Linked DNA regions of Homo sapiens. The protein of the gene in region 2 purifies or fractionates together with the protein of the main gene of each other region. This does not show direct contact. Each region holds a gene or a part of one and is shown on either strand. Other genes may lie near its edges.

Evidence for each region.
Region 1: the proteins of PCDHB15 (region 2) and AP3S1 purify together in Homo sapiens (affinity purification with mass spectrometry; one large-scale study listed by BioGRID and IntAct). This does not show direct contact.
Region 3: the proteins of PCDHB15 (region 2) and HIGD1A purify together in Homo sapiens (affinity purification with mass spectrometry, with the first as the bait; one large-scale study listed by BioGRID). This does not show direct contact.
Region 4: the proteins of PCDHB15 (region 2) and ARHGAP39 purify together in Homo sapiens (affinity purification with mass spectrometry; one large-scale study listed by BioGRID and IntAct). This does not show direct contact.
Region 5: the proteins of PCDHB15 (region 2) and CRTC3 purify together in Homo sapiens (affinity purification with mass spectrometry; one large-scale study listed by BioGRID and IntAct). This does not show direct contact.
Region 6: the proteins of PCDHB15 (region 2) and DERL1 purify together in Homo sapiens (affinity purification with mass spectrometry, with the first as the bait; one large-scale study listed by BioGRID). This does not show direct contact.
Region 7: the proteins of PCDHB15 (region 2) and SLC25A19 purify together in Homo sapiens (affinity purification with mass spectrometry; one large-scale study listed by BioGRID and IntAct). This does not show direct contact.

The regions. Positions count from the first base shown.
Region 1 is NC_000005.10:115,865,935-115,869,434, forward strand, and holds part of AP3S1 (AP-3 complex subunit sigma-1), read left to right. Parts: intron 1-735; coding exon 736-827; intron 828-3,500. UniProt on the Homo sapiens protein: Part of the AP-3 complex, an adaptor-related complex which is not clathrin-associated. The complex is associated with the Golgi region as well as more peripheral structures.
Region 2 is NC_000005.10:141,244,094-141,248,194, forward strand, and holds the start of PCDHB15 (protocadherin beta-15 precursor), read left to right. Parts: upstream 1-1,301; 5' UTR 1,302-1,485; coding exon 1,486-3,849; 3' UTR 3,850-4,101. UniProt on the Homo sapiens protein: Potential calcium-dependent cell-adhesion protein. May be involved in the establishment and maintenance of specific neuronal connections in the brain.
Region 3 is NC_000003.12:42,784,950-42,787,490, reverse strand, and holds part of HIGD1A (HIG1 domain family member 1A, mitochondrial), read left to right. Parts: intron 1-1,328; coding exon 1,329-1,463; intron 1,464-2,170; coding exon 2,171-2,220; 3' UTR 2,221-2,541. UniProt on the Homo sapiens protein: Proposed subunit of cytochrome c oxidase (COX, complex IV), which is the terminal component of the mitochondrial respiratory chain that catalyzes the reduction of oxygen to water. May play a role in the assembly of respiratory supercomplexes.
Region 4 is NC_000008.11:144,532,347-144,535,846, reverse strand, and holds part of ARHGAP39 (rho GTPase-activating protein 39), read left to right. Parts: intron 1-1,644; coding exon 1,645-1,718; intron 1,719-2,521; coding exon 2,522-2,721; intron 2,722-3,450; coding exon 3,451-3,500.
Region 5 is NC_000015.10:90,606,423-90,609,922, reverse strand, and holds part of CRTC3 (CREB-regulated transcription coactivator 3), read right to left. Parts: intron 2,546-3,500; coding exon 2,445-2,545; intron 1-2,444. UniProt on the Homo sapiens protein: Transcriptional coactivator for CREB1 which activates transcription through both consensus and variant cAMP response element (CRE) sites.
Region 6 is NC_000008.11:123,015,487-123,018,302, reverse strand, and holds part of DERL1 (derlin-1), read left to right. Parts: intron 1-2,717; coding exon 2,718-2,816. UniProt on the Homo sapiens protein: Functional component of endoplasmic reticulum-associated degradation (ERAD) for misfolded lumenal proteins. Forms homotetramers which encircle a large channel traversing the endoplasmic reticulum (ER) membrane.
Region 7 is NC_000017.11:75,282,934-75,286,433, reverse strand, and holds part of SLC25A19 (mitochondrial thiamine pyrophosphate carrier), read left to right. Parts: coding exon 1-130; intron 131-2,840; coding exon 2,841-3,011; intron 3,012-3,500. UniProt on the Homo sapiens protein: Mitochondrial transporter mediating uptake of thiamine diphosphate into mitochondria. It is not clear if the antiporter activity is affected by the membrane potential or by the proton electrochemical gradient.

The DNA.
Region 1 (3,500 bases), about 25 Mb from region 2:
ATTACAGGCACGTGCCACCACACCCAGCTATTTTTGTATTTTTAGTAGAGACGGGGTTTCACTGTGTTGGCCAGGATGGTCTCGATCTCCTGACCTTGTGATCCACCCATCTCGGCCTCTCAGAGTGCTGGGATTACAGGCATGAGCCACTGTGCCCGGCCAGGACGCTGACTCTTACTGGAATATGAATTGCTTGGTCCAGGTTAATAAATGTTTATTGACCCAATCCTTGGCTTTAGATCGGCTTATATAAAGATGAGTAAGATGGATGGACTCTTACCTCAGTCTATATTTAGTAAAGGTTAAACTTAATTGGAAGCTCCATAGTTCTATTTCTTTCCTCCATTCAAATATAGATTAGCTACACTATTTATATCTTTACCTTTCTGATTCAGTTTACTCATTTGTAAGATAATCAGCTTTGACTAGTTAATATCTAGTTTCCCTTTTACCAGTGTATGTAATTCATCTAATATTTTTTCTTGTTGGTTTTTGAAACTTAGAAATGTGTTACTTTTATTATAGTGGTAAATATAAATAATTGGGTTTTTTTTCTTTTTCATCAAAAAATACTGGGTTTTGCTTCTGTAAGGTATAATTTAAGTCACTTCTCCAAGGACCCCTCTCTTAGATGGATTTCCCAGACAGATATTGCTACCTTTGATTTTAAAAATTCTTAAAATGCTATTAAACCTATACACTCCATCCTAATATATATGAATTATTCTTCCTCAGAGTGAAGATACACAACAGCAAATCATCAGGGAGACTTTCCATTTGGTATCTAAGAGAGATGAAAATGTTTGTAATTTCCTAGAAGGAGGATTGTAAGTAAAGCATTTCATAGACATTTCTAAGTTTTGACTATGTGATTAAAATATATACTGTTTAATCAGTTTATGGTAAAAGTTTTCTACTTTTGATTAATTGGATTAGGTGAATTAATTGCCACCTATGTTAGCTATAAATCTAACTTAAAGAATTATTTTTAAAAGATATGCAATCTTTTTTCCTCTTAAAAATTTTGGAAGGGAATTTTATATAAAGGTAATATATTAAATCGTAAAAATTCCAACATTACAGGGAAGTATAAAATGTAAAATAAGAATCTCTCAACCTTAGTCCTTCTACCCAATTTCTTGTGTATCCTTCTAGAAAATAGTTTGTATTGACTAACATATAAAGTATGTTATATGTGTTGACTAACCTACAACCTTAAAATTTTTATTTATGAGATCACACTTTGTATGCTCATTTGCATGTTGCTGGTTCTCAGTATTTTCAAAAGCTTTGCATAGAAACACATCTAGGACAAGCTTATTCTTTTTAATGACTACAGAGTATTCCTTTTTGTGAATGTTCATAAAAATTAGATTACATTCTTTATTTTACTGTTACAAGACTGAAGTCTGTTTTTCAAATATACCTAATTCAGCTAATCAATTTTTCTATTTTTAAAATGAATAAGAATATTGCCAAATATTACAAACAAATACTTTTAAACTAATAACTTCCATGAAAATGGTTTGTTCTCAAACATAAATCAGTCAGAGAAACTTAGAATTTTCTGTATTTTACTGTGTATGATGGATGAGAAATACTCTGGATAACAGGGAATCCATGGTCATAAGGTACTTTTTATCATGTGGAACACTTAACTTGGGTTTCCTGAAAGATTATATCATGCTGTCCTTAAATGTCCAATACATACTTACAAATTTTGCTGTTAACTCAAGGCTTCTAATTTAATAATTGAGACAAGTGTACCTGCTTCTGTTTTTGAATTTTACTTGTACTTATTTAATTTTAGTTGTCTTTGACATTACTATCACTTCCTCTCATCCTAGCCTCTTGATTTCTTATCTCCTAGGAAACTTACCACCCAGCACAGTGCACTGCATGTAAGAACTTGATTAATCTTACTAGGGTGCTATTTGAATTAGAAATTGTGGCTGGAAATTGTGATTGTTCTTTTTTAACCTTACAAAAAATAGAAAGCAAATATTGCAGCAGAGATGAGGCCTCACATCTAGTTTAATCCTAGTTTTGTCACTAACTAGCTGATTTCCTTGGACAGGTTACTTAAATTCTCAGGCCTCAGTTTTCTCCTCTATAAAATGAGTTATTTGGACTAACAGGATTTCTCAGTCCTGTGGTTTTATATGATGTATTACATTCTGTACAGGAATTTTTGTCAGTATTATACTATAGCTTAAAGATAAGATTATATTTTTAAAGGCAAAATATGTACTTGCCGCATTAATATTTTGCTTGCTTTTAATAGCATTACTGGCCTTTTTGAAACTTATATTCTTCAGAAGTTTGCTGTCCTTTTAAAGTAAAGCAAAAGTTTTAAGATAATCACTAAATCGCTGATTCAGAATGGAGTAAAGCCTCCTATTTGTGTTCTTTTTGCCTCTTTCAGGGAACAATTGCAGTCATAGTCTGTAAATATACTCTCAGAATCTTTAAATTGCATGTAGATATTTTTAAATTAAACATCTTCTCTAGAAGAGTATCTAGCATAGTAGGAAATTTTTATTCTTGTCAAAGATCATTTCTCCTTTTGCTATTAGAAGACATAGAAGTAGTATATACCTTGGGAAGTTGTTTCTACAGAACTTATAAGTTTAGTATTATTTTTACTGTGTAAGAAATAGATGCTGGCCAGGCGCAGTGGCTCACGCCTGTAATCCTAGCATTTTGGGAGGCCTAGGCGTGCAGATCTCCTGAGCTCAGGAGTTCGAGACCAGCCTGGGCAACATGGTGAAACCCCATCTCTACTAAAAGTACAAAAATCAGCCAGGTGTGGTGGTGTGCGCCTGTAATTGCAGCTACTTTGGTGGCTGAGGCAGGAGAATTGCTTGAAGCCAGGAGGCAGAGGCTGCAGTGAGCTGAGATAGCACCATTGCACTCCAGCCTGGGTGACAGAGTGAAACTCTGTCTCAAAAAGAAAGAGAGAGAGAGAGACAGAGAAAGAGAGGATGAAGGGAGGGAGGGAGGGAAGGAAGGAAGGAAGGGAGGGAGGGAGGGAGGGAGGGAGGGAGGGAGAGATGCCATTTTCCCATATTCTGTTGGGATGGATGTTAGTTTAATTTTGGTTACATATAGCCTTGATTGTAAATTATGTAAGTGTTTAGGGGTCTTTTAAGAAGGTGAATTCATTATTGTAAACTTAACTATGAAATAGCTAAACTATATTTAGAAAAATATGTTTGGAATGATTCCTAAATTATTATTTCTAAAATACTAAAATTCCAGTCATTATAAATAAAAGTATTTCATGAAAGAGTTTAGTATCTTAGCTCAGTTTTCTTGCATTTATGTCAAAACAATGTAATTTTGGAAGAGATCTTGACGGTAAATCTATCCAAAACTTAAGAAGTGTCATTCTTCTTTTTTTTCTGGTTGATAATCAGTCTTAAGCTGTGTAACTTACTGTGACGTATGGAGTTAAATCTAGTAAGCACTTACAAATGCCCCATGATCTAATTTCCGCC
Region 2 (4,101 bases):
ATGACATTTTAGGTCATTCTGAGTTATTTCACATTACTATTTAAAGGGCATAGGAAATAGCTACCTTATGAACATGTTGTCTTTGTTTATCCATCTTATATAATGAACTTGAATCCCAGAAGAAGAGGGAATTTCTACAGTAGGAGGAGAACCTATCTGTCAGAATGTTTAAATTAATTGTGATTTATTAATGGATCCATTTAACAAATATTTATTGAGCACGTACCATGTGCCAGGGATTATTTTAGATATTGGGGATGCAGCAGTGAACAAAATGAAGTTCTAACATGTGAGGTTGAAACAGAAAGGAAACAACTAAATAAGTACATCTATACTACGTCAGATAATAAATACGAGAGAGACAAGGCAGGGCTGGGTACAGCAGCTCATGCCTATAACCCCAGCACTTTGGGAGGCTGAGGCAGGAGGATTGCTTGAGCTCGGAAATTTGAGACCAGCCCGGGCAACATAGCAAGACCTCATCTTTACAAATAATTAAAACATTAGCCAGGCATGGTGATGCGCAACTGTGGTCCCAGCTACAGTTGCTGAGGTGGGGGGATTGCTTGAGCCTGGGTAGTCAAGGCTGCAATGAGCAGTGATTGTGCCACTGCACTCCCTCCTGGACAACAGAGCAAGACCCCATCTCAAAAAAAAAAAAAGGAAAAATGAAAAGAAAAAAAAGAAAAAGCAAAGTAAGAGATATAGGAAGTGCCTTCATATGTATTTTTCCACAGTTTAAAATTTTCATAAAATCATAACTCTCTGACTTTATGTAGAAAGGATACCACACTGGAATTAACGTGTAGCTTTTTCTTGATGTAATCCAACCAATGGGAGCACAATTCTGGTACATAGGCTGTCTAGAATTTGAAAGAAATTAAAGAATTCATTTTGTTTTGCTGATAAATTTTTAAGAAATCACGTGGCTTTATGTTATTATTATTACAAGATGACTGATCACTATTATGTCTTCTTTCACTTCTCAATTTCCCTCAGAACACTACACCCAGACTACAGGCTCTGGAGGGTGGGGACCATGTCTGGGTTGTTTACTGATGTATTTCATAATTTGGCACATAGAGACCAATAATACTCCTTTAAATGAAGAAATTAATAATTACCATTGCGTGATATTGTGATTACATCATTTCCTCCCAATTTCCAAACTCCTAATAGAATAGAGAATAGATCAATTGTAGCAATTCGTTTCGAAGCAAAGACAACGCATGGTGGCGCTGCAGGCTAAGGCTTCAAAAAAAGGAAAAGGAAAAAGCCCATGAAATGCTACTAGCTACTTCAGACCTCTTTCAGCCTAAGAGGAAAGCCTGTTAGCAGAGCACGGACCAGTGTCTCCGGAGAATGCTATTCTCCTACATTTCCGAACAGGTTATCAACGCACAGATCGATCACTGCCTCTGTCCCATCGCTCCCTGAAGTAGCTCTGACTCCGGTTCCTTGAAAGGGGCGTGTACAGAAGTAAAGATGGAGCCTGCAGGGGAGCGCTTTCCCGAACAAAGGCAAGTCCTGATTCTCCTTCTTTTACTGGAAGTGACTCTGGCAGGCTGGGAACCCCGTCGCTATTCTGTGATGGAGGAAACAGAGAGAGGTTCTTTTGTAGCCAACCTGGCCAATGACCTAGGGCTGGGAGTGGGGGAGCTAGCCGAGCGGGGAGCCCGGGTAGTTTCTGAGGATAACGAACAAGGCTTGCAGCTTGATCTGCAGACCGGGCAGTTGATATTAAATGAGAAGCTGGACCGGGAGAAGCTGTGTGGCCCTACTGAGCCCTGTATAATGCATTTCCAAGTGTTACTGAAAAAACCTTTGGAAGTATTTCGAGCTGAACTACTAGTGACAGACATAAACGATCATTCTCCTGAGTTTCCTGAAAGAGAAATGACCCTGAAAATCCCAGAAACTAGCTCCCTTGGGACTGTGTTTCCTCTGAAAAAAGCTCGGGACTTGGACGTGGGCAGCAATAATGTTCAAAACTACAATATTTCTCCCAATTCTCATTTCCATGTTTCCACTCGCACCCGAGGGGATGGCAGGAAATACCCAGAGCTGGTGCTGGACACAGAACTGGATCGCGAGGAGCAGGCCGAGCTCAGATTAACCTTGACAGCGGTGGACGGTGGCTCTCCACCCCGATCTGGCACCGTCCAGATCCTCATCTTGGTCTTGGACGCCAATGACAATGCCCCGGAGTTTGTGCAGGCGCTCTACGAGGTGCAGGTCCCAGAGAACAGCCCAGTAGGCTCCCTAGTTGTCAAGGTCTCTGCTAGGGATTTAGACACTGGGACAAATGGAGAGATATCATACTCCCTTTATTACAGCTCTCAGGAGATAGACAAACCTTTTGAGCTAAGCAGCCTTTCAGGAGAAATTCGACTAATTAAAAAACTAGATTTTGAGACAATGTCTTCGTATGATCTAGATATAGAGGCATCTGATGGCGGGGGACTTTCTGGAAAATGCTCTGTCTCTGTTAAGGTGCTGGATGTTAACGATAACTTCCCGGAACTAAGTATTTCATCACTTACCAGCCCTATTCCCGAGAATTCTCCAGAGACAGAAGTGGCCCTGTTTAGGATTAGAGACCGAGACTCTGGGGAAAATGGAAAAATGATTTGCTCAATTCAGGATGATGTTCCTTTTAAGCTAAAACCTTCTGTTGAGAATTTCTACAGGCTGGTAACAGAAGGGGCGCTGGACAGAGAGACCAGAGCCGAGTACAACATCACCATCACCATCACAGACTTGGGGACTCCAAGGCTGAAAACCGAGCAGAGCATAACCGTGCTGGTGTCGGACGTCAATGACAACGCCCCCGCCTTCACCCAAACCTCCTACACCCTGTTCGTCCGCGAGAACAACAGCCCCGCCCTGCACATCGGCAGTGTCAGCGCCACAGACAGAGACTCGGGCACCAACGCCCAGGTCACCTACTCGCTGCTGCCGCCCCGGGACCCGCACCTGCCCCTCACCTCCCTGGTCTCCATTAACACGGACAACGGCCACCTGTTCGCTCTCCAGTCGCTGGACTACGAGGCCCTGCAGGCTTTCGAGTTCCGCGTGGGCGCCACAGACCGCGGCTTCCCGGCGCTGAGCAGCGAGGCGCTGGTGCGAGTGCTGGTGCTGGACGCCAACGACAACTCGCCCTTCGTGCTGTACCCGCTGCAGAACGGCTCCGCGCCCTGCACCGAGCTGGTGCCCCGGGCGGCCGAGCCGGGCTACCTGGTGACCAAGGTGGTGGCGGTGGACGGCGACTCGGGCCAGAACGCCTGGCTGTCGTACCAGCTGCTCAAGGCCACGGAGCCCGGGCTGTTCGGCGTGTGGGCGCACAATGGCGAGGTGCGCACCGCCAGGCTGCTGAGCGAGCGCGACGTGGCCAAGCACAGGCTAGTGGTGCTGGTCAAGGACAATGGCGAGCCTCCGCGCTCGGCCACCGCCACGCTGCAAGTGCTCCTGGTGGACGGCTTCTCTCAGCCCTACCTGCCGCTCCCAGAGGCGGCCCCGGCCCAAGCCCAGGCCGACTCGCTTACCGTCTACCTGGTGGTGGCATTGGCCTCGGTGTCTTCGCTCTTCCTCTTCTCGGTGTTCCTGTTCGTGGCAGTGCGGCTGTGCAGGAGGAGCAGGGCGGCCTCAGTGGGTCGCTGCTCGGTGCCCGAGGGCCCCTTTCCAGGGCATCTGGTGGACGTGAGCGGCACCGGGACCCTTTCCCAGAGCTACCAGTACGAGGTGTGTCTGACGGGAGGCTCTGAAAGTAATGATTTCAAGTTCTTGAAGCCTATATTCCCAAATATTGTAAGCCAGGACTCTAGGAGGAAATCAGAATTTCTAGAATAATGTAGGTATCTGTAGCTTTCCGACCGTCTGTTAATTTTGTCTTCCTCACTTTTCACCTTAGTTTTTTTTAACCCTTTAGTAATCTTGAATTCTACTTTTTTTTAAATTTCTACTGTTGTCTTTAGTAATGTTACTCATTTCCTTTGTCTGATTGTTAGTTTTCAAATTATTGTATTATTATAAATATTTTATATCAGGAAAGTTCATATTTCTGAATAAATTAATAGTATTCATTCCTGAAGGGTGATATGA
Region 3 (2,541 bases), on a different chromosome or scaffold from region 2:
CCTCCCAAGTAGCTGGGATTACAGGCGCATGCCACCATGCCCGGCTAATTTTTTGTATTTTTAGTAGAGATGACCAGGCTGTTGGCCAGGCTGGTCTCAAACCCCTGATCTCAGGTGATCCACCTGCCTCAACCTCCCAAAGTGCTGGGATGATGGGTGTGAGCTACTGCTCCCAGCCCTAATTTTTTTTTCCTCCTTATGATTTGGAAGTTCTGCGGCTATTCTTACACTGCTTGCTGGTGGTTATCTTTACATTGTCAAACTAGGATGTGTTTTTTTCATCTATTTCCTGTATTAAAATGAATATAAATTTATTCCCTAAGACCTTTAGCACACGTTTTGTTGTGATAATCATAGCCTAATTTCAGATTCTTAATTTTGCTATATTATACCAGTCATTTTCAAGGAACCAGTACAGATTTTTCTGTCTTTATTGCTCACCATTATATCTTAACCATTATGTCTTTATTTCTTGAACTGTCCATTTTGACTCACTGTTTTTATTTGACTGGATATTTTCCTCTAGGTTTTTGTATCAGTACCTGGGTGGCAGCTTGGGAAAGACAGCCCTCCTGTAGTCCCAGTTATTAGGGAGGCTGAGCGAAGAGGATCACCTGAGCCTGGGAGAACAAGGCTGCAGTGAGCTATGATTGTGCGGCTGCACTCCAGCCTGGGCAACAGAGCAAGACCCCATCTCTTAAAAAATAAAATAATAAATCTTAAAAAGAAAACATGGAAGGTCATGTCCTGAATGCTTTTGCCCTCAAAATGAATGAGAGTTTGGCTCTGTATAGAACTCTAGGATCATAATCCTTTTAACTGAAACTAATATTGCTCTATTCTTTTCCTTTATTTACTTCTTCCCAGTACAATATCCCAAAGTTTGAAATATTCAGGCAATGTTTCTCAGTGGTAGTAGTGTGTAGGATTGTCTCTGGTATATTAACTGATTACCTTGAGGGAGGGAAATAGGACAGAGAGGAAATGGAATAAATTCATTCTCTAAGTCAAGACCTTTGGCACACTTTCGTTCTGATAATCATAATCTAGGTTCCTGTTAATTCCCTAGCAGTTTTTTAAAGGAGTTTATCTACTGGCCCCACAAACCCATGTTTTTAAAGATAATCCTGACTTTCTGGATCTGTTGTTGTTTGCTTAAAGATTTTTGGTTTTGATAGGGGAAAACATGAAAAACTCAATTTGTATGTTAGCTAATTAATGATCTGATAAAGAATCCTCATAAAAATAATAGAATGTACATTGACTGATGGTAAAGTCATCTTGGTCCCTTCTCATGCATCTGACATACTTGTTACTTTGTTTTACAGGAATAGCGGGTTTTGCAGCAATTGTTGCATATGGATTATATAAACTGAAGAGCAGGGGAAATACTAAAATGTCCATTCATCTGATCCACATGCGTGTGGCAGCCCAAGGCTTTGTTGTAGGAGCAATGACTGTTGGTAGGTTCCTATAGGAAATTTCAAATTTTCGTTTCTCATTAAGGTATTTCTTTACAAACAAAATAGGTAAATATTTTTAGCTGACCTTTTAGCAGTTGGAGAATATCACTTATACTCATTTTCATGTAAAAAATGAATTAATGAAGATAATTCAAGTAGTGACATAGTTTTTCTATGATATATCCTACTAAGATTTTAAAGAAAAAAAAAATCCTGTCAATCACTGAGTTTATAATTTCATTGAAGAGCCTAGACATGTAATTGGGGTTGATAGTAACATCTGTTATCTGGGAGAGACATACAATTGCTATTTTATTGTGTTTTTAAAGGAGAGATTCTTAAAGTTTAGGTATTACATGCTTCTTCTATTGGCTTTATAATTCATTGACTTTATCTGGTATTATGTAGCAAGAGTGATTCCTTTCAAAGTTACCAGATAAATATTGATTGTTCTTTCAAAGAAATATTGTAACATGTGAAGTAGCCATACCAGCCCTTTGCTACTTGGGAAACTACTGTATGTAACAAGAGTTTTAGAGATTTAAGATGTTTAAGAAGGCAAGAGTATAAGCTTCCTAGGGTCTTATTCCCCTTGTAAATATTCCATGCTAGCAGTGGTGCTACTTTCAGCTATTTTATGAACTGGTTTTTATTTTTGAATATTTAAGAAAATACTGAAATGCTTAACTAGCATTCTTTTTCTTTAGGTATGGGCTATTCCATGTATCGGGAATTCTGGGCAAAACCTAAGCCTTAGAAGAAGAGATGCTGTCTTGGTCTTGTTGGAGGAGCTTGCTTTAGTTAGATGTCTTATTATTAAAGTTACCTATTATTGTTGGAAATAAACTAATTTGTATGGGTTTAGATGGTAACATGGCATTTTGAATATTGGCTTCCTTTCTTGCAGGCTTGATTTGCTTGGTGACCGAATTACTAGTGACTAGTTTACTAACTAGGTCATTCAAGGAAGTCAAGTTAACTTAAACATGTCACCTAAATGCACTTGATGGTGTTGAAATGTCCACCTTCTTAAATTTTTAAGATGAACTTAGTTCTAAAGAAGATAACAGGCCAATCC
Region 4 (3,500 bases), on a different chromosome or scaffold from region 2:
CCTACAGAGGAGTAAACTGAGGCACAGAGAGACTGCATTATGATCACCTTCATCAGCTGAGAGGCGGTGGCCCCAGTGTATCCCAGTCACAGAGTGTTGGAGGGTGTCCCAGTCCCAAGCAGGCTCAGGCTGGGGTGTTTGTCCCACCAGGGGCCTGGGGACAGGAGATCAGGGCCTGTCTTCCCGCAGGGACAGCAAGCAGGAGGCCCAGCCCTGCCGTCTGCCCCAGGCCCCCCAGCCTAGTGACTACATGTCCCAGCTGCTGAGCTGAGGCCCTGGGTTTCTGCCGCCTTCCTGCAAAGCTCATTCCCTCCTTGCCTTCTTGAGGCTCTGAAGCCTGGGTCCAGTGTGCGTGGGCACCATCCATTCTAGAAAAACAAGGGTACCTCATAGCCTGCCCAGAGGGGCCCTTGGTTCCACATGGTCCCACGCTGGAGGCTGGGGCCACATCCTCTGCCAAGACCTGTGGTCCCAAGGACCATGACAGATTTTCTAGGACCTAAACGTCTATGAAAAAAAAAATTCATTTTGGTTCCTCTAAAAAAGAGTCTCCTTAGCAGTCACATGTCAACTATTCTGTGATAATTAGAGATGGACTCAAGACACGTGTGCACTTTTTTTTAACCTGGTCCAAGGACCCCATGCCCTCAGCTGTCCACCAGAAACTGCTCCTTCAAAGAAGACAAAGGTGTTCCGATTGGGGGTCAGGATCCAGAGGCCCCCCTCACCCTGGCAGGCGGTAGGCGCTGGGCGCTGGGGCAGGTCTCATGTCCAGAAGCACAGGGTCCTGTCCATCTGTCCGAGGTCCATGGCTCCCCTGGCCCCAGACAGCTTCTCTTGGCGTGTTCTCTCATCTGCTGCTTCCCGACCTGGAGCAGGAAGGTGCCGCGCCTTCCAGACCCAGCCTGGGAATCCTCTCCCCTCTAGCACCTTCCCCTGGGCTCTGTGTCTGGAGACTCCCCAGGCTGAGGTCCCTGAGTCCCTCATCAGGTGCTGACTCAGGCACACTGCCCCTCCCCTCAGGGACCCTGCTGTCGGGCTGAGTTTTAGGAAGCCCCTCCTTTGAGAAAGGAGACTGGGCCCTCTCATTGCTGCCTCAGTCCTTCAGAAGAGCCCAGAGGTGGTACTTCAGGCCCAGGGCTGCAGCAGAGCTGGGCTTGCTGTGCAGATAGCTCAGTGCCTGCCTCCCCCAGCACTGGCTGCGGGTGCTGGGTAGGTGGAAATGACTCCTCCAGGGGCTCCTGCCCACAGCCTAAAAGCCAGGGAGGGGCCTGAAGCAGAGAAGAGTCAAATACCTGGACAGCTCCCTGGGTCAGGCCCCGGGGAGGGAGCAGTGGGGTCTAGAGGCCCTCAGACCCAGGTCCTGCCCTTCCTGTTCCTGCGTGGCCGTAGGAGGGCAGGTGGAGCTGCCAGGCGGTTCCTCCCAAGCCTGTCCCTCTGCAGGTGGGGAAGTGCTCCTTGGGCCTCTGCTCTAAAGGACACTGCCTGGGAGAGTGTGAGGACCCGCTGTGCTGGGCAGGGGGTGACCGGGGCAAGGCCAGCCCAGCCCCCCAGGGCCCTCGAAGGAGCTGTGTCTGCTCACCCCTCTCCTGGCCCCACACCCACACACCCACATCAGGCTGATCAGGCCCCTTTCCTTTCCAGGGGTGGCGATAAGCACGTATGCCAAGTACTGTTACCACAAGCTACAGAAGGCAGCCCTGACCGGGGCCAAGAAGGTACGGGTGCGCCTGGGGGGCCGGGGAGGGCAGGCGGGGACACAGAGACCCTTGGTGGACAGCCCCAGGAGCCCCGCCTGCAGTTTGGTATGGGGCAGCAGCGCAGAGGGTGCCACATGGAGCCCGCCTAGGCGGGTGGCGGGGTACGCTAGGCTGACCCCGTGTTCTTCTGGGCTGCACCCTCCCCCGGGGGCTCTTCCTGGGCCCGGACCCCCAGCTCAGGAGCAAGGCAGGCAACGGGCTCAGTCACACCGCACCACAGGGACAGGACCCCGTTCCCTGGACCTGTCCCAAGAGCCTGGCCCCTTCCCCACATCCTCTTCTCTCTGATGCGCTGCTCCCATCATACCCCTCCCCAGCGCTCTCAGCCCTGCCACAGACTTCTGGAAGTTTCACCCCAGCTCAGCTAGCTTGGCCTCTGCTGTGCTCCCCAACAGCCCTGGCCGGCCCAGGACTCACTCCCACCTTCCCAAGGGCCCCTGTGAGCTGGTGCTGTAGACGGTGACTCTGGCCAGGGAGCTGGGCTTGTCCGTAGCTCTAGTTGGAGCCAGGAGTTCACAGGGATGAGAGGAGGGGGAGGCAGAGCCAGGGGCAGCCCAGGAGGAGTTAGGGTTTGGGGGGCGAGGAGGGCTGGTCCAGGGATGGACAGTGGCCTGGGGAAACACCACACTCGGACCCAGGTGTGTGGGGCAGGAATTCTGAAGAGCGCCACCCACCTATGTTCGGGGAAAGAAGACAACCGGGGTGGCGGGGGGTCCTGAGGATGGCCAGGCCAGACCAGGACGGAGCCTCTGTCTTCACAGGGGCTGAAGAAGCCCAACGTGGAGGAGATCCGGCATGCCAAGAACGCCGTGTTCAGCCCGTCCATGTTCGGCAGCGCACTGCAGGAGGTCATGGGCATGCAGAGAGAGCGCTACCCCGAGCGCCAGCTGCCCTGGGTGCAGACACGGCTCTCTGAGGAGGTGCTGGCGCTCAACGGTGACCAGACAGAGGGCATCTTCAGGTGCCACGGCAACCCCGGGCGCCGGGTGTGGGGGCCACAGCCATGTGTCCACCATGCATCTGTGGCATGCAGGGGCCATTAAGCCTCAGGCCCACTGGGCTGCTTCCGCACCCATACCTGAGAGCAGATGGAAGGGTGGGGCCACAGTGTGGAAGCTGACCCTGAGGGTGTGCAGGCCAGGAGAGAGGGCAGGACCCATTCCAAAGAGGCAGCACAGCCAGCCAGGGAGGGCGCCCCTGCAGAGACGGCCACCAGGGGTCCAGAGCGTGCTTGGACACCAGCCATGGGTAGCCTGGAGTGGGAGCCTCAGATGACAGGCAGCCCTTGTCTGTGAACAGGGATGGCACAGGGTGCCACCCACTCCCATGACTCACCTGTCAGGGCAAGGGGTACCCAGGCCCCAGGAGGGCAGCTGGGGAAACTGAGGCTTGCAGGTTGAGCCCCAGTGGCCCTTTGGTGAGGGCATCCACCCAGGGAGCCAGCAGGGGTCCAGGGAGGGACGGTGGCCTGGGGAAGCACCACACTCGGACGCAGGTGTGTGGGGCAGGAATCCTGAAGAGCGCCACCCACCCACGTTCGTGGGAAAGAGGCCAACCGGGGTGGCGGGGGGTCCTGAGGTTTTGCTCCCCTCCCCGGGTCAGCAGGGGCCTACCGGAGGGAGTGTCCAGGCGGAATCATGAAGCCGCAGCACAGGCTCCTGTTGCCTGAGACCTGCCCTGTGCCCTGCAGGGTCCCTGGGGACATTGACGAGGTGAATGCCCTGAAGCTGCAGGTGGACC
Region 5 (3,500 bases), on a different chromosome or scaffold from region 2:
GTCAGATATTGTAGCCCAACAATTTCTAACTGCTGATTTGAAAAGGAGAGACCACCACGATTCTCAAGTCAACGCAGGAACCCTGATCCAGGATTTCTTTCTTTCTTCCTGTTTTTCTCATTGCTCTGTCTACCTGGACCAATGTTTACATTCCTTTGCTTTTCTTATTCCATCCTCACTTACCCCTTCTGACATTTCTCACCTCTTCTCTCAGAGGCTACATCGCTAAGAATGAATACTTCAGCTCAGGTAATTTCTTTCTTCAGTTACTTTCTTTTTCTTAGCATGCAAGCCTCAAAAAATCCTCACTTGAATTACCTGTGATTGCCTTGTTTCTCTAGGCCTTTGGCCCTTTCTAGAGAAGTGTAAACTTTGCAGAGGGTAATGTAAATGAAGGATCGGCAGAGGCAGAAATGCAGGAGCTCCAGGGTAAAAATCTGTCTGTCTAGCTGGCTCCCGGTCCATGGAGATTAGGATCCTGCTGTGCTCACAGGCACCCCCACTGATTACAGCCTCTGCTTTTTTTAGGCTTTGTTTACATATTCCCATCTCTACCTATCCTGAAACTAAACTCATCCCTCTTCCCACACACCCCACTCCTCTAAGCAGTGAGCAGTGCACCCATATCCAATTCCAACATCAATTTCAACATCACTGCCAACTTTCATATTCCCATGTATGGAAGCATGGGTAGATGTCCCTAACCAATTCTGAAAGCTCCCATAGTTTACAAGCAAACAATCATTTAAGCAAATGTAGTCTTCTCTGAATTGCACCAATAGAACAAATATAGCAACAATTATTATTCAGTACTATCCCTGCTATATACAAAGAAATACGATCATAAGTGTTCTCCTGGAAGGAACAGAGGCCATTTAGGCTTTAAATTGTCCAAAAAGCAAAGAAAACCAGAAAAGCTGGTTTCTTGGCTAAAGATTTATTTATTCCTGTTTCAAGAACAAATACACAGCCCTGAAAGTTTCTGGGCAAGAGTCAATCTGCATATGGAATGGATAATTCAAGACCATTGTTCTTTCTAGATTATAAACCCCAGAAAGGTAGGCTTGAAATGTGTCTGAATGACCAGCCTCACTTCATGTACAGGTCAGGTGCCAGCACCGAGAGGGTGTTTTGGCAAATGCCGTGCACATGTGAGCCAGTGTGTGATTCTTCACACTTCTCCATCAGTACGGGCTCCTCTGTGCCGGGCACTGTGCTAGGGGCTGGAGAGAACAAGACCATTAAGATGCTGCCTTCAAGAAATCTACACTGAGCAGAGAAAGAGATGCATGTTCACATAAAAAAGCAGCCAAGCATTGCAGGTGCTAAGAGAGCAGTCTGGGATGTTAGAAGGACACGATAACTCTGAGCTGAGAGGAAGGAAGGTCAAGGATGGCTCCACAGACATGAGGACACACACAAGCTGAGGCTTACGGATGGAGAGGGTGCTGGCCAGGAGTGAGAGAGAGAGGAAGAGACAGGAACAGGAAGAAACACCAGTAGAACCCAAAGTGGTTCGCATGGCTACCTTGGGTGTGAGGCGGGGGAGCAGAGAGAAAAGGGAGAGAGGCAGACAGGAGCCAGGCCTTGGGGCTCATGTCATTCCAAAGAAGATCTGGGCTCTTTCTCCTGAAGGTGAGGGGTGGCACTGAGGATTTTAAGTGGGAGAGCAAGATGATCAGGTTTGGGTTCGCTCTGGAAGCAGAGCTGTGAGATGGCATGAGTGGGCCTCTTCCCCACTCCGGGTTACTCCTGGCCTCTCTCCATCCCCTTACTCACAGTGGCCAGGGGGCAACTGAGCAGGTGATGCACAGTTCCAGCCCGACCTCCTCTTCCCCCATCTCAAGGCAGCAGGCCTCTGCTCCACCCTCCCTCCCCGAGGCTTGCCTGACCCCTCCTCCCAGGGGACCACACTGGCCAGTGCTGCCAGCCACTCAGGGGGAGTCAGCCTCATGCTGGGGTTCAGTCTCAGCAGGCCCACCAACCTACAGAGACAGTCACTTCCTCCAACCTGGTCTTAGTAGTAATAAAGGTGATATCTAGCTCTGACTGTCACTTCTAGTTGTATTTCTCAGTTTGTTCAGATCCTGGGTGGGGAAAGAGGACTCTTGGGGAACTTAACATAAAACTGGATTGAAGGGATGTGAGACTGGAAATCAGGAGACCAGTCAGGAAGTTATTAGAAGATGACGGGTGCCCAGAAGAGGGCCAAGAGACACCAAGAGGGAGAGCGTGCTGTGGAGGAAGCAGGGCAGAGGCAGGGGACGCTGGGAGCTCCATCCATCCTGACTGCATCATGGACACACACGCTTCCCTGCCACGAGCTGCCTCTCTAAGATCACTGAACCGGGAAGCGCAAACACCACTTCAGCTTCTCTCTCCCTTGGTTCCTAGGACAGAATGAGCAAGCACAGCTGCTGTCAGCAGTGGCCTGTGTGTCTTACCCATGTATGGGGCAGGCCAGGCCGACTGGCCCCCTCCTCCATAGGGGTCCTGGGGCTTGGTACTCAGAGCACTCGTGTGAAGAGCAGAATCAGAATTGGTCCTAAGGAGGGGAGGAGAGAGGCTGGCTGAAAATCCGTTTTCCTTAGTGAAAATGCAATAGTCTTTGTTGAATATTACCAACAGGAAAGAAGGCAAGAATAACTGATTTATAATCAACCATCAAATAAGGGGTTAGGACCTACCTGAAGTTCTTTATATCAATTAACAGCCTCTGAGGATCGCCCACACTCCAGAATATTTTAACTTAGACTCATATAGCCTTATATGCTGAAGCTGATGGCATGGCGATCAAGTTCAACAAGGTGGGCCTCGGATTCATGGCTTCCGTCTAAGAGCTTCCTATTCTTCCCAGCTCGGAAGCTGGCTGTGGCCAGTTTAGCCTGTGGCTGCACTAGGTTTTCTCCACCTGAGAGTAGCTGTTTCTAAGTAAAGGATCACTTAGAGCAGTGGTTTGCAAAACCCTTCCAGGGAGAAGGTAAGATCAAGACTATTCTCAAAATGATAGTAAAGTGTCCTCTGTTTTTTCACTCTCGCTCTCTCCCAAGCACGGCGGGCTTCCCCAGCGGCCACGTGAGGTGTGATGCCCCCACCGCTGAGCGCAGGCACAGACCACCCAGCTGCCTTGGAGGGATTTGTAAAAGGTGAACATTGTCACTATTTTCAATACTTTTTTTGTGTTTCTTTTCAAAAAGATATAATTTATGTTAACATGTAATGGGCTTATTATTTTTTTAATTCACTAGTATCTTTAAAAAATCTCTCAGTTTAATTTCTAATATCAATAGATATTCTCACATAAACAAATACTCTTTGAGGGCCTCAATATTTTTTTTATTTTATTTTATTATTTTTTTCTGAGACAGAGTCTCGCTCTGTTGCCCAGGCTGGAGTGCAGTGGTGTGATCTCGGCTCACTGCAACATCTGCCTCCCGTGTTCAAGAAATTCTTCTCCCTCAGCCTCCCGTGTAGCTGGGATTATAGACGTGCGTCACCAT
Region 6 (2,816 bases), on a different chromosome or scaffold from region 2:
AGGCTGTCGAAGAACGGGCCAGTTAAATCACCATCTGGGTGTCACAGCCTGCCTGACAATCATGCCTAATCTCATATCAGGGATATGCAGTAATAGCTTGCATTTGAAAGCTTTAAAAAAACAAACAAACCAAACCCTTCCACATCTTGCTAATTTTAATGTTTTGCAGTTCTGTCATTCCTCTAAGGGATCAGTGAGGGCAGTAAAACTTGAGCAGGCCTCCTCTTTCTCCCCTTCCTTTTATAGGGTAGGGGTATGTTTTTCAAAGACTTTTCAAATTGTGAACTGTAATATACAGAGATATACCATATTGGTGGTTGTGGTGTGTGTGTTTTTCTTTAAGAGAATAAAAAGAAACTTGTTTCTCTTCTGAGCCTTGAATTGCCTTCAGGCTAAAAAAACAAATGACCAATCTGGTTTCTAATTATCAAAGGACATAATAACAGCAGGTTTGGCTTTCTGATCTAGGTTTATCAAGTAGGATGGCAGATGCATCAATTAAAAAAAGCTTGGTGCTTTTGGGGGGCAGCCAACAGTTACTTTACTTTAAATGGCCATATTCTAACTTAACGGCTTGTAGCTACTTCTCAGTTGTGGGCAACACAGGATACAAGATTCTAGTGGCAAAATCAGCGAGCCCTGGAGCCTGCCTTCCACTTGAACTTTCTCTGTTGGGGGAAGTCCTTCTGCTAAATTTTGCATAAAGATCAGATGACAAAATACAGCTCCTTGCAAAAGCAGTAACTGCTTTGAAATTACCATAAATTTTTGTTGATTATGTATAATTGGGTATCTTTTTATACTAATTATTTGCATTTAATTTCACTATCTACTTAAGCAGTGGAGATGGCTTCCATATTGTCTTAGAGTGAGTAGCAAAGCAAGACAGCCCTAGCATTTTCTCCAGCAAGTGTTCTATTTTATTATGTACTTTGGAGGAATATTATTGTACCAGAAGGCATGGATGTTGAGAAACCAGCACTTGGAAAATACATTTTGATTTAATGGTAAAGCTGTATTTGTTTAAAATGGAGGAGGTGAGTATAGGAAGGTATAACTGCTTTTCTAAATGGAATGCTGATACATTTGTATCACCATTTTCCATTCCATTTAGAGTAGTTATATCTTCTCTGTACACACTAAATTTTGTGTTTAAAAGGGGTTTTTGGCCAGGCGTGGTTGCTCACGTCGGTAATCCCAGCATTTTGGGAGGCCGACGGGTGGATCACGAGGTCAGGAGATCGAGACCATCCTGGCTAACATGGTGAAACCCTGGCTCCACTAAAAATACAAAAATTAGCTGGACATGGTAGCGGGCGCCTGTTGTCCCAGCTACTCGGGAGGCTGAGGCAGGAGAATTGCTTGAACCCGGGAGGTGGAGGTTGCAGTGAGCTGAGATCATGCTACTGCACTCCAGCCTGGTGACAGAGTGAGACTCCGTCTCAAAAAAAAACAAAAAAACAAAAACCCGAGTTGTTGTCTGTTTTGGGAAGAGGCATGAAGGTATCGAGTATGATGTAAACAGACTCCAGTCACTGACTGCTGTCCCTTCCCAGGCAGGATGCATGTAGTATAACAAGTAGTGCAGGGCGCAGGCTCTGGAACCAGGCTGACTAGGTTGGAATCCTGTCACTTTCGAAGCGCTTCACTCAGTGTTGGCTCAATTTTCTTGTTTATAAAACAGGAGTAATAGTAATGCCTACCTCATGGGGTTATTGTGAAGATCAGATGAATTTATAAGCAGGCAGCACCTAGTGTAAGGCAATAATCACTGAGTAAATTCACATAGTAACTGCTCTAGTATAAGGTCAAGTATAAAGCCTGTCCTCTTCAGGGTTTCTGCTGTGGACAAGTCACCTGTCATGACTTACTCTTGCTGCCAAGAAGGGTTTAAGCGGAGGTATCAGATCATGCTCTCTGCCTTCAAGCAAAATTTTAAACATTAGGATCTGCTAAGTGGAATAGGTTTAAACACATTCTCAGTTTACTAATAAAAGAGTCAAAGATGGGAAATAGTTGGAAAATACTATTGAGAGTGTAGGCTTGGGTTTAAGTTCTCTTAGCTGTTCTGTGAACTCTTAGTTTATTAATTTTAAGGTGGGAAATCATCTAACCGTCTGGGGCCCCAGCTCTCCCACCATCTGTGAGAAGGGAAGAATGTACCTGGAAGGCAGATTCTGAATAAATTTTAAAACATACCCATACTTCCAACATAGAAAGCCTTCTTCCCCTGTCTCCTTTGATGGGCTCAGCTGAGAGCCTTTTAGAAATGCTGTGCAAGGCTCAAACATGCAGGCTGTGGATTTGGCCTTTGAAAGTGAATGTATTTTGTATCCTTTGATCCAGTTTGAGCCATATTTAGATATACCAAGATGCTATCAGTCATTCTTTGGTTGCTGGGCTTGTGGGTGTAATATTTTTGTTTCCATACTGTTCTGCATGGATTACTTTTATAAGCAGAGAAAAAAACGTTCAGAGTGTGAATTTAGCTGAAATCTGAATACATTTAAGAAACATGAAAAACGAATGCCGTCTGTGGTCAGGTCATGGGGCTGAGTACAGAAAAGACAAAGTTAAATAAGACGTCCCTCGCTGCCTTCAACATGACAAGTGCCATGGGAACAGCAGGAGAGGGAGGTGTTCTCGGAGGTCAGATAACTATGTGGAAGTGACTTTGTTCTCTTCTCTCCGTTTGTGTCCCCGTCTTTCTGCACCAGGTACCGCTGGCTGCCCAGTAGGAGAGGAGGAGTATCAGGATTTGGTGTGCCCCCTGCTAGCATGAGGCGAGCTGCTGATCAGAATGGCGGAGGCGGGAG
Region 7 (3,500 bases), on a different chromosome or scaffold from region 2:
TGACCCCAGCGCAAAGTACCATGGCATCCTCCAGGCCTCTAGGCAGATTCTGCAGGAGGAGGGTCCGACAGCTTTCTGGAAAGGACACGTCCCAGCTCAGATTCTCTCCATAGGCTATGGAGCTGTCCAAGTAGGTGGCAAGGGACCTGGCCAGACCTCTGGGGTCACGTTGCTCAGTGGAGGAGCAGAGGGAGGGTGAGGCAAGCAGGAATGCCGCGCAGGGCAGGACGGAAGAGGCAGGCCCCACGCTTCCCACCTGCCTCACCCGGGAGCCTTCCTGACCAGCAGTACCGTAGGCATTGCCCTCCGCCATGTCCCTGCGTCTATCCTGTGTGACTTAGGTGTTGCATCTTGGAGACCGATTTGATGTCATGCCTTCTGTGAGGCTTGGCGAAGGACAGCACTAATGCATTTCAGTTTTTGAAATACCACCTTCACATATGTGGTTCATCTGAACTTCACCACACCGTCATGAGGAGGGCAGGGTAGCTGTCATGTGGATCTCAGGGAGGAGAAGTCAGCTGTCCGAGGCCACACAGCCTGCACATGGCGGGGCTAGGGTTAGAACTCATGCTTCGTTCAGTGGAGCACTAGTATAGTCATAGTGCACAGCATGTGATTTTATGCAGTAGATGTGTTTAAGAACCAGCCCTGTACAGTGCAAACCATGGGCCAGGCCCCTGTTGGAAGCACTTCACATACACTCTGTCACAGCAGTCCTTAAGGTAGGGGCTGTTGTCCCTCCCATGTCATGCATGAGAAGACTGAGGTGGACAGAGCTTACATAATTAACCCAACCAAAGCCACTGGCTAGAAAATGGCAGAGCCACGACCCCCACCTAGGCAGCTAGTGCCAGAGATGTCCCTTCCTACTCTTCCTGTGACATCACAGTGACCGCCCAAGTCAGGTGCTTACTGGCTGGGCATGCCCTGCGATCCTGTCTCTGCACTTGTCTGCAAACAGATATTGCAGCATGACGAATAAATACAGCAACAGGATAGTCTCAAGAAGCCAGGCGTGGGCTGGACTCAGTGGCTCACACCTGTAATCCCAGCATCTGAGCCCGGGAGGCGGAGGCTGCAGTGAGCCACGATCATGCCACTGCACTTCAGCCTGGGCAACACAGCCAGACCCTGTCTCAAAAAAAGAAAAGAAGCCAGGCCATCTTCAGTTGGCTGAAGGAAGATCTGAGCATAGCCCTGGTATAGTGGCTCACACCTGTAATCCCATCACTTTGGGAGGCTGAGGTGGGAGGATGGCTTGAGCTCAGGAGTTTGAGACCAGCCTGGGCAACATTAGGGAGACCTCCTCTCTACTAAAAATAAAAAATAAATTAGCCAGATATGGTGGTACACACCTGTCGTCCCAGCTATTCCAGAGGCAGGAGAATAATTTGAGCTAGAGAAGTCAAGGCTGCTGTGAACTGTGATCGAGCCACTGCACTCCAGCCTGGGCAACTGAGCACGACCTTGCCTCAAAAAGCAAAACAGGGCCAAGCTCGGTGGCTCATGTGTGTAATCTCAGCCCTTTGGGAGCCCAAGGCGGGCAGATTGCTTGAGCTCAGGAGTTTGAGACCAGCCTTGGCAACATAGTGAAACCCTGGTTCTACAAAAAATACCAAAATTAGCTGGACATGGTGGCATGCGCCTGTAATCCCAGCTACTTGAGGAGCTGAGGTGAGAGGATCACTGGAGCCCAGGAGGTTGAGGCTGCAGTGAGCCGTGTTTGTGCCACTGTACTCCAGCCTGGGTGACAGAGAGACACTCTTGTCCCTAAAAAAAAAAAAAAAAAAAAAAAAAGAAAGATCTGAATGTAAGGGGGTCACCCTGTGGAACATGCTCCCAAAAGAATCTGCCCCAGAAAAGAATGATTCTCGAACAGTGCCGCCACCAGGTGCCGCCGCCAGCTGCACTGAAGGGGTCCCTGCAGGAATCAGAGCATGGCCGTCTTCCCCAGTTCTCAGAAAACTAAGTTAGCCAGTGACATTTTCTGATATACATTGTTCTCATGTATCTTTTTTATTTTTTCTTGAGACAGAGTCTCACTCTGTTGCCCAGGCTGGAGTGCAGTGGCGCAATCTCAGCTCACTGCAACCTCCGCCTCCTGGGTTCAGGCGATTCTTCTGCCTCAGCCTCCCAAGTAGCTGGGGTTACAGGCCCACGCCACCATGCCTGGCTAATTTTTGTATTTTTAGTAGAGACAGGGTTCCACCATATTGGCCAGGCTGGTCTCCAACTCCTGACCTCATGATCTGCCCACCTCGGCCTTCCAAAGTGCTGGGATTACAGGCGTGGGCCACTGCACCCAGTCTTTTTTTTGAGACCGAGTCTTGCTCTGTCGCCCGGGCTGGAGAGCGCAGTGGCATGATCTTGGCTCAGTGCAGCTCTGCCTCCCGGGTTCAAGTGATTCTCCTGCCTCAGCCCCCCAAGTACCTGGGACTACAGGTGCCCGCCACCATGCCTGACTAATTTTTGTATTTTTAGTAAAGACAGGGTTTCACTATGTTGACCCGGCTGGTCTCGAACTTGTGACCTCGTGATCTGCCCGCCTCGGCCCCCCAGAGTGCTGGGATTACAAGTGTGAGCCACTGCACCTGGCCCCCATATATCTTCTTAACCCTTTGAGTGTCTGACTCTACTCAAGTATCAAATGGCATCCGAGTTTTGCGTAGAATGTTGTATTTATCATATGCTGTCACTGCTCAAGAAGAACATTTCCTGACCTTTTCCTCGCCCCTCCACCTGGGCCCCAGCCGGGTCACGGGTGATGTATTTGGGGAGTATTTGGTCCTCACCCTCATCCTTTGGGCTGTCGGTGACTTCTTCACTTACTCTTGCAGTTCTTGTCATTTGAAATGCTGACGGAGCTGGTCCACAGAGGCAGCGTGTATGACGCCCGGGAATTCTCAGTGCACTTTGTATGTGGTGGCCTGGCTGCCTGTATGGCCACCCTCACTGTGCACCCCGTGGATGTTCTGCGCACCCGCTTTGCAGCTCAGGGTGAGCCCAAGGTGAGTGGCCAGGAGCCAGACCGGGGAAGCCCAAATAAGGAAGGTGTTGTCACAGGGGTAGCATTCTTTATTTTTTATTTATTTATTTATTTATTTTTGTTTTGTTCTGTTTTGTTTTGTTTGAGACAGAATCTCGCTCTGTCATGCAGGCTGGAGTGCAGTGGTGCGATCTTGGCTTACTGCAAGCTCCACCTCCCGAGTTCAAGCGATTCTCCTGCCTCAGCCTCCCGAGTAGCTGGGATTACAGGCACCCGCCACCACGCCTGGCTAATTTTTTTTGTATTTTTAGTAGAGACGGGGTTTCACCATGTTAGCCAGGATGGTCTCGATCTCCTGACCTCACGATCCGCCCGCCTCGGCCTCCCAAAGTGCTAGGATTACAGGCATGAGCCACTGCGCCCGGCCTATTTTTTATTTATTTATTTATTTATTTTGAGACAGAGTCTCGCTCTGTTGCCAGGCTGGAGTGCAGTGGTGCGATCTATTTTT